2 separate regions of the Homo sapiens genome follow, and region 1 is linked to region 2. Evidence: fine-mapped expression QTL. Tissue or cell type: unexposed skin. Region 2 holds a variant in brackets; the other region holds the start of a gene. All regions are shown on one strand. Distances are from middle to middle.

The links. PIP is the estimated chance that this variant, and not a neighbour inherited with it, causes the effect.
Region 1: it holds the start of SLC35E4, and the variant in region 2 is fine-mapped to the expression of SLC35E4 in unexposed skin (GTEx, PIP above 0.99).

What each region holds. Positions count from the first base shown.
Region 1 is chr22:30,632,294-30,640,427 of GRCh38, reverse strand. SLC35E4 (solute carrier family 35 member E4) reads right to left here and starts at 4,647. Exons shown (of 2, transcript NM_001001479.4): 1 at 3,359-4,647. The coding sequence starts at 3,977. RefSeq lists a silencer at 4,440-4,889 and an enhancer at 5,221-5,925.
Region 2 is chr22:30,738,789-30,746,788 of GRCh38, reverse strand. It overlaps OSBP2 (oxysterol binding protein 2), which reads right to left. Exons shown (of 14, transcript NM_030758.4): 2 at 5,420-5,628. Among named protein-coding and RNA genes, the nearest start is that of MIR3200, 11 kb to the right of the region's middle. RefSeq lists enhancers at 6,032-6,091, 6,382-6,441. The variant C/T (reference allele first, on the strand shown) is at 3,907.

The DNA of each region.
Region 1 (8,134 bases), 110 kb after region 2:
TGACCTCTGTGCAAATCATGAACTTCTTTCTTTCTTTCTTCTTTTTTTTTTTTTTTTTGAGATGGAGTCTAGCTCTGTCCCTAGGCTGGAGTGCAGTGGCGTGATCTCGGCTCACTGCAACCTCTGCCTCCTGGGTTCAAGTGATTCTCCTGCCTCAGGTTCCCGAGTAGGGGGGATTACAGGCAGGCGCCACCACGCCCAGCTAATTTTTGTAATTTTAGTAGACAGGGTTTCACCACGTTGGCCAGGATGGTCTTGATCTCCTGACCTCGTGATCCTCCCACCTCTGTTGCGGGAAGTCAGGGACCCCAAACGGAGGGACCAGCTGAAGCCATTGCAGAAGAACGTGGATTGTGAAGATTTCATGGACATTTATTAGTTTCCCAAATTAATACTTTTGTAATTTCTTACGCCTGTCTTTACTGCAATCTCTGAACATAAATTGTGAAGATTTCATGGACACTTATCACTTCTCCAACCAATACCCTTGTGATTTCCTATGCCTATCTTTAATCTCTTAATCCCATCATCTTCGTAAGCTGAGGAGGCTGTATGTCGCCTCAGGACCCTGTGATGATTGCGTTAACTGCACAAATTGTAGAGCATGTGTGTTTGAACAATATGAAATCTGGGCACCTTGAAAGAACAGGATAACAGCAATGTTCAGGGAACAAGAGAGATAATCTTAAACTCTGACTGCCGGTGAGCCGGGTGGAACAGAGCCATATTTCTCTTCTTTCAAAAGCAAATGGGAGAAATGTTGCTGAATTCTTTTTCTCAGCAAGGGACATCCTTGAGAAAGAGAATGCGTCCCTGAGGGTAGGCCTCTAAAATGGCTGCTTCTGGGGGGCGGCCATCTTTTATGGTCGAAGCTGTAGGGATGAAATAAGCCCCAGTCTCCCATAGCGCTCCCAGGCTTATTAGGACGAGGAAATTCCCGCCTAATAAATTTTGGTCAGACTGGTTGTCTGCTCTCAAACCCTGTCTCTTGATAAGATGTTATCAATGACAATGCGTGCCCGAAACTTCATTAGCAATTTTAATTTCACCCCGGTCCTATGGTCCTGTGATCTGGCCCTGCCTCCATTTGCCTTGTGATATTCTATTACCTTGTGAAGCACGTGGTCTCTGTGACCCACATCCTATTGGTACACTCCCTCCCCTTTTGAAAATCACTAATCAAAACTTGCTGGTTTTATGGCTCAGGGGGCATCACGGAACCTGCCGACATATGATGTCTCCCCCGGACACCCAGCTTTAAAATTTCTCCCTTTTGTACTCTGTCCCTTTATTTCTCAGACCAGCTGACACTTAGGTAATACAGAAAAGAACCTACGTGAAATATCAGGGGTGAATTTCGCCCGATATCTGGCTGAATTTCCCCCAATACACCTCAGCCTCCCAAAGTGCTGGGATTACAGGTGTGAGCCACTGCGCTGGGCTGAACTTCTTTCTTTTTCTTGAGACAGAGTCTCATTCTGTCGCCCAGGCTGGAGTGCAGTGGTGTAATCTCAGCTCACTGCAACCTCCTTCTCCCGGGTTCAAGGAATTCTTATGCCTCAGCCTCCCCAGTAGCTGGGATTACAGGTGCATGCCACCTGGCCCGGCTAATTTTGAGACAGAGTTTCACTCTTGTTACCCAGGCTGGAGTGCAATAGCGTGATCTCAGCTCACTGCAACCTCCGCCTCCCAGGTTCAAGCGATTCTCTCACCTCAGCCTCCTGAGTAGCTGGGATTACAGGCGCCCACCATCACGCTCAGCTAATTTTTGTATTTTCAGTAGAGACAGGGTTTCCCCATGTTGGCCAGGCTGGTCTCGAACTCCTGACCTCAGGTGATCCACTTGCCTCGGCCTCCCAAAGTGCTGGGATTACAGCTGTGAGCCACTGCGCCTGGCCCAATTTTTTTTTTTTTTTTTTTTTTTTTGAGATGGAGTCTCACTCTGTCGCCTTGGCTGGAGTGCAGTGGGGCGATCTTGGCTCACTGCAACCTCTGCCACCCGGGTTCAAGCTATTCTCCTGCCTCAGCCTCCCGAGTAGCTGGGATTACAGACACCTGCCATGGCGCCCGGTTAATTTTTTTGTATTTTTAGTAGAGATGGGGTTTCACCACCTTGGTTAGTCTGTTCTTGAACTTCTGACCTCATGATCCACCCGCCTCAGCCTCCCAAAGTGCTGGAATTACAGGCATGAGACACCGCGCCCGGCCCCAATTTTTGTATTTTTAATAGATACAGGGTTTCACCATGTTGGCCAGGGTGGTCTCGAACTCCTGGTCTCAAGAGTCCTCCCACCTCAGCCTCCCAAAGTGCTGGGATTACAGGCATGAGATACCATGCCCAGCCTGTCAAATCATGAACTTCTCTGGGTCTTAGTCCCATCATCTGTAAAATGGGGATAAAGTTGGTGGTTGCCATGACAACTCAAGGTCAACACTCAGCACCAAGCCTGTCACACTGTAGCTCCCAGTAAACAACAGCCCTCCCCAGACTTAGACCTGACCCCTGACCTTCCAAATCCCAGCTCATCCCAGACCCTCCTTTTCTCTCCCTGGCCCATGCTTTCTGGCTTTCCTTTGTGTCCAAAGCCTCAGGCCACATCTCTTGGAAGCATGGAGTCTGACTATCTGGGTTTAGATCTTGCCTCTGCTGCTCACTGGCCACGTGGCCCAGGGCAAGCCTCTTCATCTATCAAATGGGAACAATACAGTGAGATAAAAGGCTAGTCAAACACAGATCACTGGCTATCACTAAATACTGGTTTGTAATTCCAGAACTTCAGGAAGCTGAGGGGGGAAGATCGCTGAGGACAGGAGTTCAAGACCTACCTTGGCAACATAGCAAGACTCTGTGTCTATAAAAAAAAAAAATTAGCTGACCAGGTGGGGTGGCTCACGCTTGAAATCCTAGCACCTTGGGAGGTCAGGAGTTCAAGATCAGCCTGGCCAACATGGTAAAATGCTGTCTCTACTAAAAATACAAAAATTAGCTTAGCGTGGTGGTGTGCACCTGTAGTCCCACTTACTTGGGAGGCTGAGGCAGAAGAATCACTTGAACCCAGGATGCGGAGGCTGTATTGAGCTGAGATCTCACCAATGCAGCCTGGGTGACAGAGCCAGACCCTGTCTAAATAAGTAAATAAACAAATAAACACGAGTTGGGCCTCCAGAGCCTGAGTCTGGGGCCTGGAACTCACTGAACTGTTGGCCCTCTCTGAGCCTCAGTTCTGCTTCCTCCACAGCCATGAACCTCAGTTTCCTCATTTGTAAAATGGGACAACAGCCATACCCCTCACAGGGCCATCCAGGCCATGCACCCACCCGGACCCCCACCTTCTCAATTGGCCACCCAGGCACTTACTTTGCTGAACCGACTTGAGTCCGCGGAGGCAGGTGGCTGCGAGCAGGAAGCCACAGCCGGTAGGGGGTGTCCGGAACTCTCCAGCCAGGCTGCAGGCGGCCCCCAGGCAGAGCGGACCCATGGCGGCCAACTGAAGTGGGTGGTGGCGGCGGCCCAGCAGCAGCGCCGACAGGGCCAGGGTGAACAGAGGTGTGGTGGTAGTAACCAGTTGTGCCAGGTCCAGGGGCACAGCCCTTAGGCCCACGTTGCCGCAGGCCATGGACGTGCCAAAGGTGAGACTGAGCAGTAGGACTCGGCAGCGAGTGCCGCCTGGCATGGGGCGCCGTGCCCCCCGGTGGCATGCCAGGGCTGCCACCAGCATGTGCAGGGCCGACAGCAGCAGGGGCCGCCCAAAGCCGTGCACTGTGAAGATCCACTTGTTGAGGCTTGACATGCTGGCTCCCGCCAGCAGCCACACCAGTGCTGCCATGGCCACTCGGGCCCGGCCAGGCTGCCGGAGGGCCTGAGGGCTGCCAGGGGGCCACTCGGGGGGCCCAGCCGCCTGAGCACCACCAGCTGCTGCTCCTACTTCGGCTGAGGTCATCCTGCCATCATGGTGCTCCGGCGGGCAGCGGCACATCCGCACCAGTGAGGCTAGGGCAGGAGGCGGGCTCCCCAGTGACGACCTCTGGGCCACCAGAGAGTTCCGCTTGGGGCCAGGCTAGATCCTGGTTCCTCCGACCCCGTGTCCCGTTTCAGACAGGTGAGGACACTGCTTACTTGTGCCAGGCCTGTGCCAGCGATGTCTAGAAGCTAAGCTGTGTTTCCAGCTCAGACAGGGCAGAGCCAAGGTCGCGGCTGCTAGGATGCCAGGGTCTCCGATGCTCAAGCGTGGGCTCCAGGCACCTCTGCCCCGTGCCAGGTGGTCTCCACTTTCCTCCTCGCCTAGTGCCCACGTTATGCTTTTAGATGAAATCCTCGTTCCTTTTTTCTCTTCAGTCCCCAGGTCATTAGGGTGCGCGCAGATCCAGACCCTGGGAACTCCTGCGTGCTCTGGCCGTGACCAGGCCTGGCAGGGGGGCGATCTGGGCTCCGCGCCTGGCGGTGCCCGGCCCGGGGGGTCGCGGGCTCGCTGCCTCCCACAGCGCCCGGGCAGTGAGCTGACACCACGGCCCGTCCTCCGGCCGGTGCCTGGCGGCGAGCTAGGCGCGGATCCAGCAGGGCCTGCGCTCCAACTCCTGCTCTCTGAGGCTTTGGCTGCGGCTCTGGCTGCGGCTGTGACTCCGGCTGCGGCTCCTGCTGCGACTCACGCCCGGCTCCAGCTCAGGCCCGGCACGGCGGGCGCGGCGGTGCGCTCTTGACTCCGCCTCCGCCTCTGCCTCCCCCGCCGCCGCCCGCTCCCTACACGGAAAATTGGGCTGAGCACCCCAGCCAAGCCCCGCCCCAGGCCAAGCCCCGCCCCCGGACCGGGAGGGCGGTCTTGCCCCGCCCCAACGCCTCCCGCTCACAGCCCCTCCCCCATCGGCCTGGCATTTCCCCCATCAGCCCTCCTCCGCCCGGGGCCTGCGCATCTGCCCAGTAGACCCCCCCACGAGCTGGCGTGGTCAGCCTCTCTTCGCCGCCAGGGGGGACCAAGTCGCTCCCCACCCAGCGCCAAGGCGAGCCCTCCATGGAGATGAACGCGCATTGCTGGAGACACTGGGGTATCCCGCACAGCCGCCCAGGCTATCTTCAAGAAGCAGGGTAGTGAGGAGGGGCCCACAGCCCCCATCCTAGGACCAGTCTTACGCCCACCTGATCTCTGGCCACAATTATCTCGTGGGACCTCAGCATCCAGCAGAGCTGGATTACGGGGTCCCTTAAGGCACCTCCATCGCCCCTCCGTAGCCCCAGCATCCTCCCCAGCCTCCCAGTCCAGGGCGGCGCCCCCTGGGGACCCTCAGAGGGAAGCTGAATCACCAGGCAGGGATACCCACAGCTGCGGAAGTAGGTACCGCCGGCCGGCATCCTTCCCCGGCCAGCAGCCTCTGTCCGGTCCCCTGAGCACTCGAAGCTGACTCATAGCAGAACTTCCTGGGGTCCACCCTGTGCCCCAGCCCCGGCAAGACAGAGCCCTGGGCTGGGAGGCAGAGCGGTTGCCACTGAGCCCTTGTTCCTGTCTGGGTCTCGGTTTTCCCACCAGAACGACAGACGCTCTCTGAGGTCAGGATTGGGTAAACGGCGCGCCCCAGGGCAGAAGAGGTCCATCCAGATTCCAGGCTAGGCCAGGCCCTGGCCCCTCTGAGCTCTGAAGTCCGGGAGCACGAGGACCAAGGCCCAGCCATGTGCCCAGTATCAGATGTGAGCCTCTTTCCTGTTGTCGGTCTTCCTACTAGGCTCCTGCCCAAGAGGACCCAGCTCACCCCTTGCCTGTTGTCTAACCAGCAAATCCTTGATGACAGCAACCTGTCTTGAGACACAAGATCTCAAAGGGGTACCGCTGAACCCAGCCCGCTGCGCCCTCTGGTGGCCAGGCGCTGAATATAGCCCTCAATCCCCATCCCAATCACAGGACGCGGGTTTAAAATCCCCAGCCTCAAAGGAGGCCTGCTGAATCAGAGGCTCTCTGTCACGGGTGGGCCTGGGAATTTACATGGTCACATTTGCCTCTGTAAGTCCGACGCCCGCTGGAGCCTGCAGATCTCTGCTGAATAGCCTAAGCTACAGCGCAGGGGGTGCAGATAGGGAAATTTCCAGGCCAAGGACCAAAAAATGGTGGCATTTAGTGTTTCTCCAGAAAGGGTTGTGGAAAGGAAACTAAGCCAGCCAAAGCGGATGGCCCCTCTCCCGCACCCCCTTGCCATTTCCTGAGGAAGAGAAATCTGGGACCCCTAAGGGTTATAATTATCTTTGATATTTTGTCAGGTTTTTTTGTTTGTTTGTTTTCCAAGACCGAGTTTCGCTCTTGTTGCCCAGGCTGGAGTGCAATGGCACGATCTCAGCTCACTGCAACCTCTGCCTCCCAGGTTCAGGTGGTTCTCCTACCTCAGCCTCCCGAGTAGCTGGGATTACAGGCGTGCGCCACCAAACCCGGCTAATTTTTGTATTTTTAGTAGAGACAGGGTTTCACCATGTTGGTCAGGTTGGTCTCAAACTCTTGACCTCAGGTGATCCACCCACCCTGGCCTCCCAAAGTGCTGAGATTACAGGCGTAAACCACCACGCCCAGCCTGGATTTTGTCAGTTTTCTAGTAAGTCTCCTTTAGTAAAAAACAATAGTCTGGGTACAGTGGCTCATGCCTGTAGTCCCAGCACGTTGGGAGGCTGAGGCATGAGGATCACTTGAGCTCAGGAGTTGGAGACCAGCTTGGGCAACAGGGCAAAGCCTCGTGTCTACAGAAAATACAAAAATAAGCTGGGAGGCTGGCCGAAGAGGTTCACGCCTGTAATCCCAGCACTTTAGGAGGCCGAGGCTGGCGGATCACTTAAGGTCAGGAGTTGGAGACAGCCTGGCCAACATGGTGAAACCCCGTCTCTACTAAAAATACAAAAATTAGCTGGGTGTGGCGGTGGGCGCCTGTAGTCCCAGCTACTCAGGTGGCTGAGGCAGGGGAATCGCTTGAACCCGGGAGGCAGAGCTTGCAGTGAGCCAAAATCACACCACTGCACTCCAGCCTGGAAGAAATCGCACTACTGCACTCCAGCCTGGACGAAAGAGCAAGACTGCATCTCAAAAACAAACAAACAAACAAACAAACATGAGCTTGGCATGGTGGTGTCTGCCTGTAGTCCCAGCTACTCAGGGGATTGGGAGGGAGGATCCCTTGAGCCCAGGAGATGGAGGCTGCAGTGAGCTAAGATTGCACCACTGCACTCCAGCCTGGGTGACAAAGACCCTGCCTCAAAAAAAAATTTTTTTTTTTTTTTGAGAGAGTCTCGCTCTGTCGCCCAGGCTGGAGTGCAGTGGCACGATCTCAGCTCACTACAAGCTCCGCCTCCTGGGTTCATGCTATCCTCCTGCCTCAGCCTCCTGAGTAGCTGGGACTACAGGTTCACGCCACCACGCCCGGCTAATTTTTTGTATTTTTAGTAGAGACAGGGTTTCACCGTGTCAGCCAGGATGGTCTCGATCTCCTGACCTTGTGATCCACCCGCCTTGGCCTCCCAAAGTGCTGGCATTACAGGGGTGAGCCACCGCACCCGACCAAAACTTTTTTAAATTTAATTAAAAAATAATAAGAGAGAAAAAACCAACAACAGTAATATTTTTTTTTTGAGATGGAGTTTCGCTCTTGTCACCCAGGCTGGAGTGCAGTGGCACAATCTCAGCTCACTGCAACCTCTGACACCCCCCGACCCCGGGTTCAAGTGATTCTCCTGCCTCAGCCTCCCAAGTACCTGCCATCATGCCTGGCTAATTTTTGTATTTTTACTAGAGATGGGGTTTCACCATGTTGGCCAGGCTGGTCTCGAACTCCTGACCTCAGGTGATCCACCCACCTTGGCCTCCCAAAGTGCTGGGATTACAGGCATGAGCCACCTTGCTCAGCAACAATAATAATTTATATATACATAAATTTTATTGCCCTCTCCCTCTCCCTCTCCCCACGGTCTCCCTCTCCCTCTCTTTCCACCGTCTCCCTCTGATGCCGAGCCGAAGCTGGACTGTACTGCTGCCATCTCAGCTCACTGCAACCTCTCTGCCTGATTCTCCTGCCTCAGCCTGCCGAGTGCCCGCGATTGCAGGCACGCGCCGCCACGCCTGACTGGTTTTCGTATTTTTTTGGTGGAGACGGGGTTTTGCTGTGTTGGCCGGGC
Region 2 (8,000 bases):
TGGGCACAGTGGCTCGTGCCTGTAATCCCAGCACTTTGGGAGGCCAAGGCAGGCGGATCATCTGAGGTCAGGAGTTCAAGACCAGCCTGGCTAACATGGTGAAACTCCGTTTCTACTAAAAATACAAAAAAATTAGCCGGGTGTGGTGGTAGGTGCCTGTAATCCCAGCTACTCGGGAGGCTGAGGCAGGAGAATCGCTTGAACCTGGGAGGTGAAGCTTGCAATGAGCCGAGATTGCACCACTGCACTCCAGTTTAGGCAACAAGAGCGAAACTCCATCTCAAAAAAAAAAAAAAAAAAAAAGTGTTTCATCCTCTTCAATTTTTTGGAAAAAATTTAAGAAGAATTGGTATAATTTTTTTTTTGAGACAGGGTCTCACTCCACTGCTCAGGCTGAAGTGCAGTGGTGAAATCATGGCTCACTGAAGCCTCAACCTCTGGGGGTCAAGCAATCCTCCCACCTCAGGCTCTGAAGTAGCTGGGACTACAGGCATGTGCTATCATGCCTGGCTAGTTTCATTTTTCAAATTTTTGTAAAGAAAGGGTCTCACTATGTTGCCCAGGTTAGTGTTAAACTCCTGGGCTCAGTTGATCCTCCCTCCTAGGCCTCCCAAAGTGCTGGAATTACAGACGTGACCCACCAGGCCCAGCCTTGCAAGTTCTTTAAATGTTTGGTAGAATTCACCCAATTAAGCCATCTGGTCTTGGACTTTCCTTAGTTTCAAGATCTTTGATTACAGATTCAATGACCTCTTCATTGTAGGTCTGCTAAGATATTTTATTTCTTCTTTACTCAGTTTTTGTAATTTGAGTGTTTCTAAGAGTTTGTCCATTTGCATCCAGGTTATCTAATTTGTTGGCATAAACTGTTCATTATAATCCTTTTCATCCTGTTCTTATAACCCTTTTCATTTCTGTAAGGTCATTAGTAATGTTCCCACTTTCATTTCTGATTTCAGTAATTCGAGTCTTCTCTTTTTTTCTTAGTCTAGCTAAAGGTTTACCAACTACGTCAGTCTTTTCAAAGAACCAACTTTTGCTTTCATTCATTCTCTCTATTGGTTTTTCTATTCTCTATTTCATTTACTCTAACTCTAATTTTTTTTTTTTTTTTTTTTTTTTGAGACAGAGTCTCACTCTGTTGCCCAGGCTGGAGCGCAGTGGCATGATCTCAGCTTGCTGCAACCTCTGCCTCCCCGGTTCAAGTGATTCTCCTGCCTCAGCCTCTTGAGTAGCTGGGATTACAGGCGTCTGCTACCACATCTGGCTAATTTAATTTTTAAATTTTTTTAGTAGAAATGGGGCTTAAGCATGTTGGCCAGGCTGGTCTCAAACTCCTGACCTCAGGTGATCTGCCCACCTTGGCCTCCCAAAGTGCTGGGATTACAGGCGTGAGCCACCACGCCCAGCCCAACTTTAATCTTTATTGTTTCCTTCCCTCTGCTAGCTTTGAGTTTAGTTTGTTCTTTACCTACTTCCTTCGGGTATAAAGTTTGGTTTTTCATTTCAGATTCATTTTCCTTCTTTTTTAACATACACTTTTAGCGCTATAATTTTTTTTTTGTATTTTTTTCTGGCACACAAATGAGGATTAGATAGAACTATACATTTCTCTCTGGGCACTGCTTTTGCGTATTCCAAAATTTTGGTAAACTGTGTTCTTGTTTTCATTTATCTCAATGTATTTTCGAATTTCCCTTGTGATTTCATCTTTGATCCACTCATTGTTTAAGAGTATGTTGTTTAACTTCCATGCATTTTCTAGTGTTACCTCTGTTATTGATTCCTACCTTCATTCCACTGCGGTCAGAAAAGATACTTCATATAGTCTCAATCTTTTTTAAATTTATTGAGACTTGTTTTGTGGCCTAACATATGGTCTATCCTGAAAAATGTTCCATGTGTACTTGAAAAGAAATTATAATCTGCTGTTGTTGAGTGGAGTGTTTTGTATATGTCTGCTAAGTCTAGTTGGTTTATAGCACCTAAGAGTTGATTTATTTGTTTGTTTGTTTGTTTGTTTGTTTTGAGACAGAGTCTCACTCTGTTGCCCAGGCTGAAGTGTAGTGGCGTGATCTCGGCTCACAGCAACCTCTGCCTCCAGGGTTCAAGCGATTCTCCTGCCTCAGCCTCCCAAGTAGCTGGGACTACAGGCACGCGCCACCACACTCAGCTAATTTTTGTATTTTTAGCAGAGATGGGGTTTCACCATGTTGGTCAGGGTGGTCTCGAACTCCTGATAGACATCCAGATAGGAGGGGATTGTACTTGGATTAGGGCATGGCAAAAGAGCTGGGGAGTAGCAGGTGATTTCAAGAGATAAGCAGAAGTAGGAAGTAGGCTTCCAGCAGGATGAGACAGGGTTCTCAGTTCAGGAGAAGAAAACAGGCCCCGGGATAACCCACAGTGGCCTGCCTAAAGTGCTATCTATGTCCTTGACCCAGCTGGCCACCATCAGCCAGGCCCAAGGAGAGCGACATTAGGCCATCTTCTCTCATTCAAGGCTGCCCCAAGCTGACTCCAAGACAGGCAAAAAGTTACAAACCACAACTCTCTCACATCAGCCTGAGAGCTTAGAGAGGAGGACCTTGCCTTTAACAGAAGGCCATCAAAAGGGCTATTTTCCAAGACATAATCAGGTGGTCCCAATCTTTCCATAAACACAGAGTAGCCGTCTGAAGGCTTTTCCTTCACATACATGGTTCATTCATGCTTCAAAAAGCCAACAGGAGAGGAATCCTACCTTGAGGGTTACCTGGACATTTGTCTCTGTCCTGTGCCCTTGCCCAGAAGGCTGCCCTCTTGGCACTTGTGCTGCATCTCATACAATGAAGGAAGCTGAGCCTAAGGTTACTCCCTCAGGGGTCCCCTTCTCCCCTAGATGAAGTCTGGGCAGCAGTCTCCAGCACTGCCCAGCTGAGTTAACAAGCACTTCCTTCCTCCCCGCCCTCACCTCCGCACCCTGCCAACTGCAAAAGAAACCCCTCGCACTGGCTGTCGTAGGAAAACTGTTGCCGGATGACTAATCCCATGACTGCCACCTGCTGCATTATTTTCAAGAAGTTCCTAAAAAATAAGGCAATTTATCATTTATTTATTTATTTATACTTAGAAAAGCGAAACCAGGGAGAGGAAGCTAGATCTCTAGTTAGCATCCTTACTTGGCCAGTGTGAGTGCCCTGAGCCCAGCTGTGCCAGCAGCCACAGATTTTGCCACAGTGGCTTCCCACAGGCATACAAACTGAGACCACAGGTCCTTCTGGGGGTCCCAACACAGCCCATGTCTGAGATGGTCCCACCTGCCTCCTTCACTGGGTGATGGAGTGGTACCCGGGGGACCGCCGTCAAGCTCAGCATCATTGCTGACATACGAGAGCTACATGAGTGCTGACACCTCAGGGAGAACAGTCACCAAGCAGGTGACCCATGCTCCAAATGAGTGAGACAAAAGAGAAAGCCAGACTGGTTTTCAGTGCCCTTTAATACTCACTGAGACCCTAGAGCTGGGAGACAGACCCCAACATGGGAGACAGGGATGGGGCATAAGGACCAACATCACTAGCTCTCATCCTGCCAAATGCTGGAGCTCCTTCCACAGGACTCACCATCTCCCCACCCAGTCTCCAAGATAGTCTGGGAGAGCAGGGGCTGTGCCCCCTTCTCACCTGGAGCCCTGCCTCCCCAGACAAACACATAGGTCTGTGGAATACACCATTCCACTAATGACTTCAGAAGGATCACTGTTGCATGTGTAGACACATTTTTCAACCATCAGAAACATTTACTGTAGCTCTGGGCAGGCAAGGCTGTGGGAGGTGTGTGTCCTCACACACTCCTGTTAACATTCCATGGCACAACCCCTGTGGAAGGCAGTTTGACAATACCTTGAAGAATTACAAATGTACG[C/T]GCCCACTGACCCAGCAAGCCGGCTTCCTGGAACATAAGTTTCATTTATACTCACATGTGCATGAAATGAAGTACTTGCAAGGTTACTCATGGCAGCACAGTATGTCACAACAAAATAAGGAAAACAACCCAAATGCTCACCAACAAGCTATAGGTTACATAAACTATGGTCCACCCATACAATGAAATACTACACTGTTGTAAGAACAAGGAGGAGGCTTTTTACATATTGACAGGGAAAATTTCCAAGACATATTGCTAAATGGAAAATAAAGAAGGCAGTGAATGCAGTTATTTTGAAATAAGTACCTATTTGAATATACATGTGAAGATACAAGTATCTCTGGCTGCCTCTTGGTAGGAGAATGGGGTGAGTGACTGGGAACCAGGAGTCAAAGACAAGACCTCACTGTGTAGGATTTAGAAGCTGTTGGTTTATGAGTCATGTTAAAATATTACTTTTTTTTTTTTTTGAGACAGAGTCTCACCCTGGTGCAATCTTGGCTCACTGCAACCTCCGCCTCCTGGGTTCAAGTGATTCTCCTGCCTCAGCCTCCTGAGTAGCTGGGATTACAGGCACGCACCACCACGCCCAGCTAATTTTTTGTATCTTTAGTACAGACAGGTTTTCACCATGTTGGCTAGGCTGGTCTCAAACTCCTGACCTCGTGATCCACCTGCCGCAGCCTCCCAAAGTGCTGGGATTACAGGCATGTGCCACCACACCCAGCCGAACATTACATATTTAAAAAATAAATTTATTGGCCGGGCGCGGTGGCTCATGCCTGTAATCCCAGTACTTTGGGAGGCTGAAGTGGGCGGATCACGTGAGGTCAGGAGTTTGAGACCAGCCTGGCCAACGTGATGAAACCCTGTCTGTATTAAAAATACAAAAATTAGCTGGGCATGGTGGTGTGCGCCTATAATCCCAGCTACTTGGGAGGCTAAGGCAGGATAATTGCTTGAACACGGAAGGCAGAGGTTGCAGTGAGCCGAGATCATGCCACTGTACTCCAGCCTGGGCGACAGAGTGAGACTCTATCTCAAAAAATAAAATAAATTTATAAAGTAAGAAACAAAATGTCTTGCTCAGGACATCTGAGCGGGCTTCCCTAATAGGCAAAGACAGCAGCTCTGGCTAAATGGTTTCACTCTCCACGATGGGGGAACCTGGGGAAACGGCTGGCTTGAGGCACAGACTGACTGCTGCTTCTGGACCTAACCCACTGCAGCATCTGAAGGGTCTGCTGAAGTCCTGACTAGCCCAAAGAAAGGCACACACAGCTCCTGCCCACCAAAAACATTTCCATGCCAAGAACTGCTCGCCAGACAGAATGGCTGAGTCTCTCACTGCTGACGATGCACAGAACATGCACGCACCTTGACCTTCCAGATTGATCCACGCTGGCCTGGGTCTCCTGGCCACCACTGCCCACCAGTGGCTTGCAATTCCCACTTCCTCCAGACTCATGACACCACCATATACACACCCGCTGTCCCAAGTGCTCACTACCTGAATGAGTGTTCATCACGCGGACAGCCTTGGCCTTGGCCAGCTCCAGGGCGGTGATCCACTGCTGCCGGTCCACCTCTGAGCTGGCCTTGAGGTGGTAGCTCCTGGCCCCACTGGTCAGCAAGATACCACAAGAGTCCTCCGTGTCAATGTGCGCGGTGGACAGGTTGATGGTTCCACGGCACGTGTGGGCCATTTCACCCTGATTTCTGTAGGATGTAAGAGAAGGAATGGGGTGAGGCTCCTAATCTCAATGGCTCCAGACTAAAGAAACCCTCCAGGCAAATCCTCAGAATCTCAGACCCTCAGAGCTGGGAGAGGCCCTGGAGTCAAAGTTGGGAGATGATGCCTATTGGAACTGCCTGGTCGTGGCTTGGTTGAGGGGGACTCTAAGGCCACGACTGCTCTCTGTGGGGAATGGCAGAGGGACGGGAGCCTGCATTGGTGCCACGTGTGCAGGGAGTGTCTGGTGTGGTCTAAAGCTTTGCAGACACCAGGAAATGGCAGAATGACTGCCCAGGTCTCTCAAGACAGATCAGCCTTCGGACTCTATGCTAAACTCTTTCCTTTAAGTCTTAGAACCATGGAGTTGGGGCCAGGCGCGGTGGCTCACACCTGTAATCTCAGCACTTTGGGAGACCGAGGAGGGCAGATCACTTGAGGTCATGAGCCAACACGGTGAAACCCTGTCTCTACTAAAAATGAAACTGCCTTTGCAAAATTATGACTGAGAGTGAAAGAGATCTAACTTAACTGACTCCATCTTGCTTCTAACCTCCAAGCTGTCTTTGTTCATTCCTGGGCATAGGCTGAATTAACTTTGAAAGAAACTTAATTTGTAGTTTATAGTTTAAACAAAGATGGGAACAGCCCTTTCCCGAAGCAGACCTCCTTCTTGCCTAGGGACTAGAGTAACATTAGCCACAGGATTAGAAATTATGGTTTAGGAGTCATGCATTTGGAGGCTATAAGATTCTGACCCTCCCTAAACTGCTCCTAAGAGCAGTGCTTGAGATATTTTGCAAACCCTGCACTTGATGGATCAGCTGGCACCACCCACATCGATAAACTGGCTCGTCTGATCTTGTGGCCCCCACCTAGGAACTGACTCAGCACAAGAAGACAGCTTCAACATCCTGTGATCTCATCCCTGACCAATCAGCACTCCTGGCTTACTGGTTCCCCCACCACCCTCCAAGTTATCCTTAAAAACTCTGCTCCCCTTGGCCAGGCGCGGTGGCTCACACCTTTAATCCCAGCACTTTGGGAGGCCGAGATGGGCAGATCACCCGAGGTCAGGAGTTCAAGACCAGCTGGCCAACATGGTGAAATCCCGTCTCTACTAAAAATACAAAAATTAGCTGGGCGTGGTGGCTCTTGCCTGTAATCCCAGCTACTCGGGAGGCTGAGGCAGGAGAATTGCTTAAACCAGGACCGGGGAGGCAGAGGTTGCCGTGAGCCAAGATCGCGCCACTGCACTCCAGCCTGGGCTACAGAGCGAGACTCTGTCTCAAACACAAACAAACAAACAAAACAAAACAAAACAAAAACTCTGCTCCCTGAATGCTCAGGGAGACTGATTTGAATAATAATAAAACTCCCATCTCCCGCACAGCAGACTCTGTGTGAATTACTCTTTCTCTATTGCAATTCCCCTGTTTTCATGAATCGCCTCCGTCTAGGCAGCAGGCAAGGTGAACCCCTTGGGCGTTTACAAAAATACAAAAATTAGCCGGGCATGGTAGCGTGCACCTGTAGTCCCAGCTACTTGGGAGGCTGGGGCAGGAGAATCACTTGAACCCGGGAGGCGGAGGTTGCAGTGAGCCAAAATGGTGCCACTACACTCCAGCCTGGGTGACAGAGCGAGACTCTGTCTCAAAACAAACAAAAAAAAGAACTACAGAGTTGGAGCAGGTTGGGATCCTGCCATTAAAACTGAAATTGGAGGCCCAGAGCCTGAGGGGGCAGACGTAGAGGCATCTCCTGCTGGGAGGCACCTGGGGCCAATGTCTCCCTGATGCTGCCCTTTTGTTCTATCATGAGATCTACAGAGCAAGGATGTCCCATTCTCTGGCTCTACATGGATTAGTTGAAGGCATTGGCTGGGCAAACATAGTGCAATCTCATAACAACGGACTTATAAGATGATGGAGCTAATGGTATCAAAATAAGGGGAGGGTAGGTGACTAAAGTGTATGCCATTTCCAATTACAATCAATGTCGGAAAACGGAGATCCAACTATCATGACTGGATCTAACTCACTCCTCAGACACTTGAAGGAAATTCAGAACCCCTACGACATAATAAATCTTTTCCCATGAAGGGTGTTAGAAAAGGAAGAGTGATTGGCCAGCATTTAATACTGCCAGTGACAGGAGCTCATTTGGTAATTTTCTGCTACCTTTTAATGCTCATTTATTTTCCCTGGCTGTTCATCATCTGTCATTTTTTTGATTCTTCTATCAGTTCTAAAGTCAAATGACTCGACACTCAATCAGACATTTGTCAGCTGGGCACGGTGGCTCACGCCTGTAATCCCAGCACTTTGGGAGGAGGAGGCAGGTGGATCACTTGAGGTGA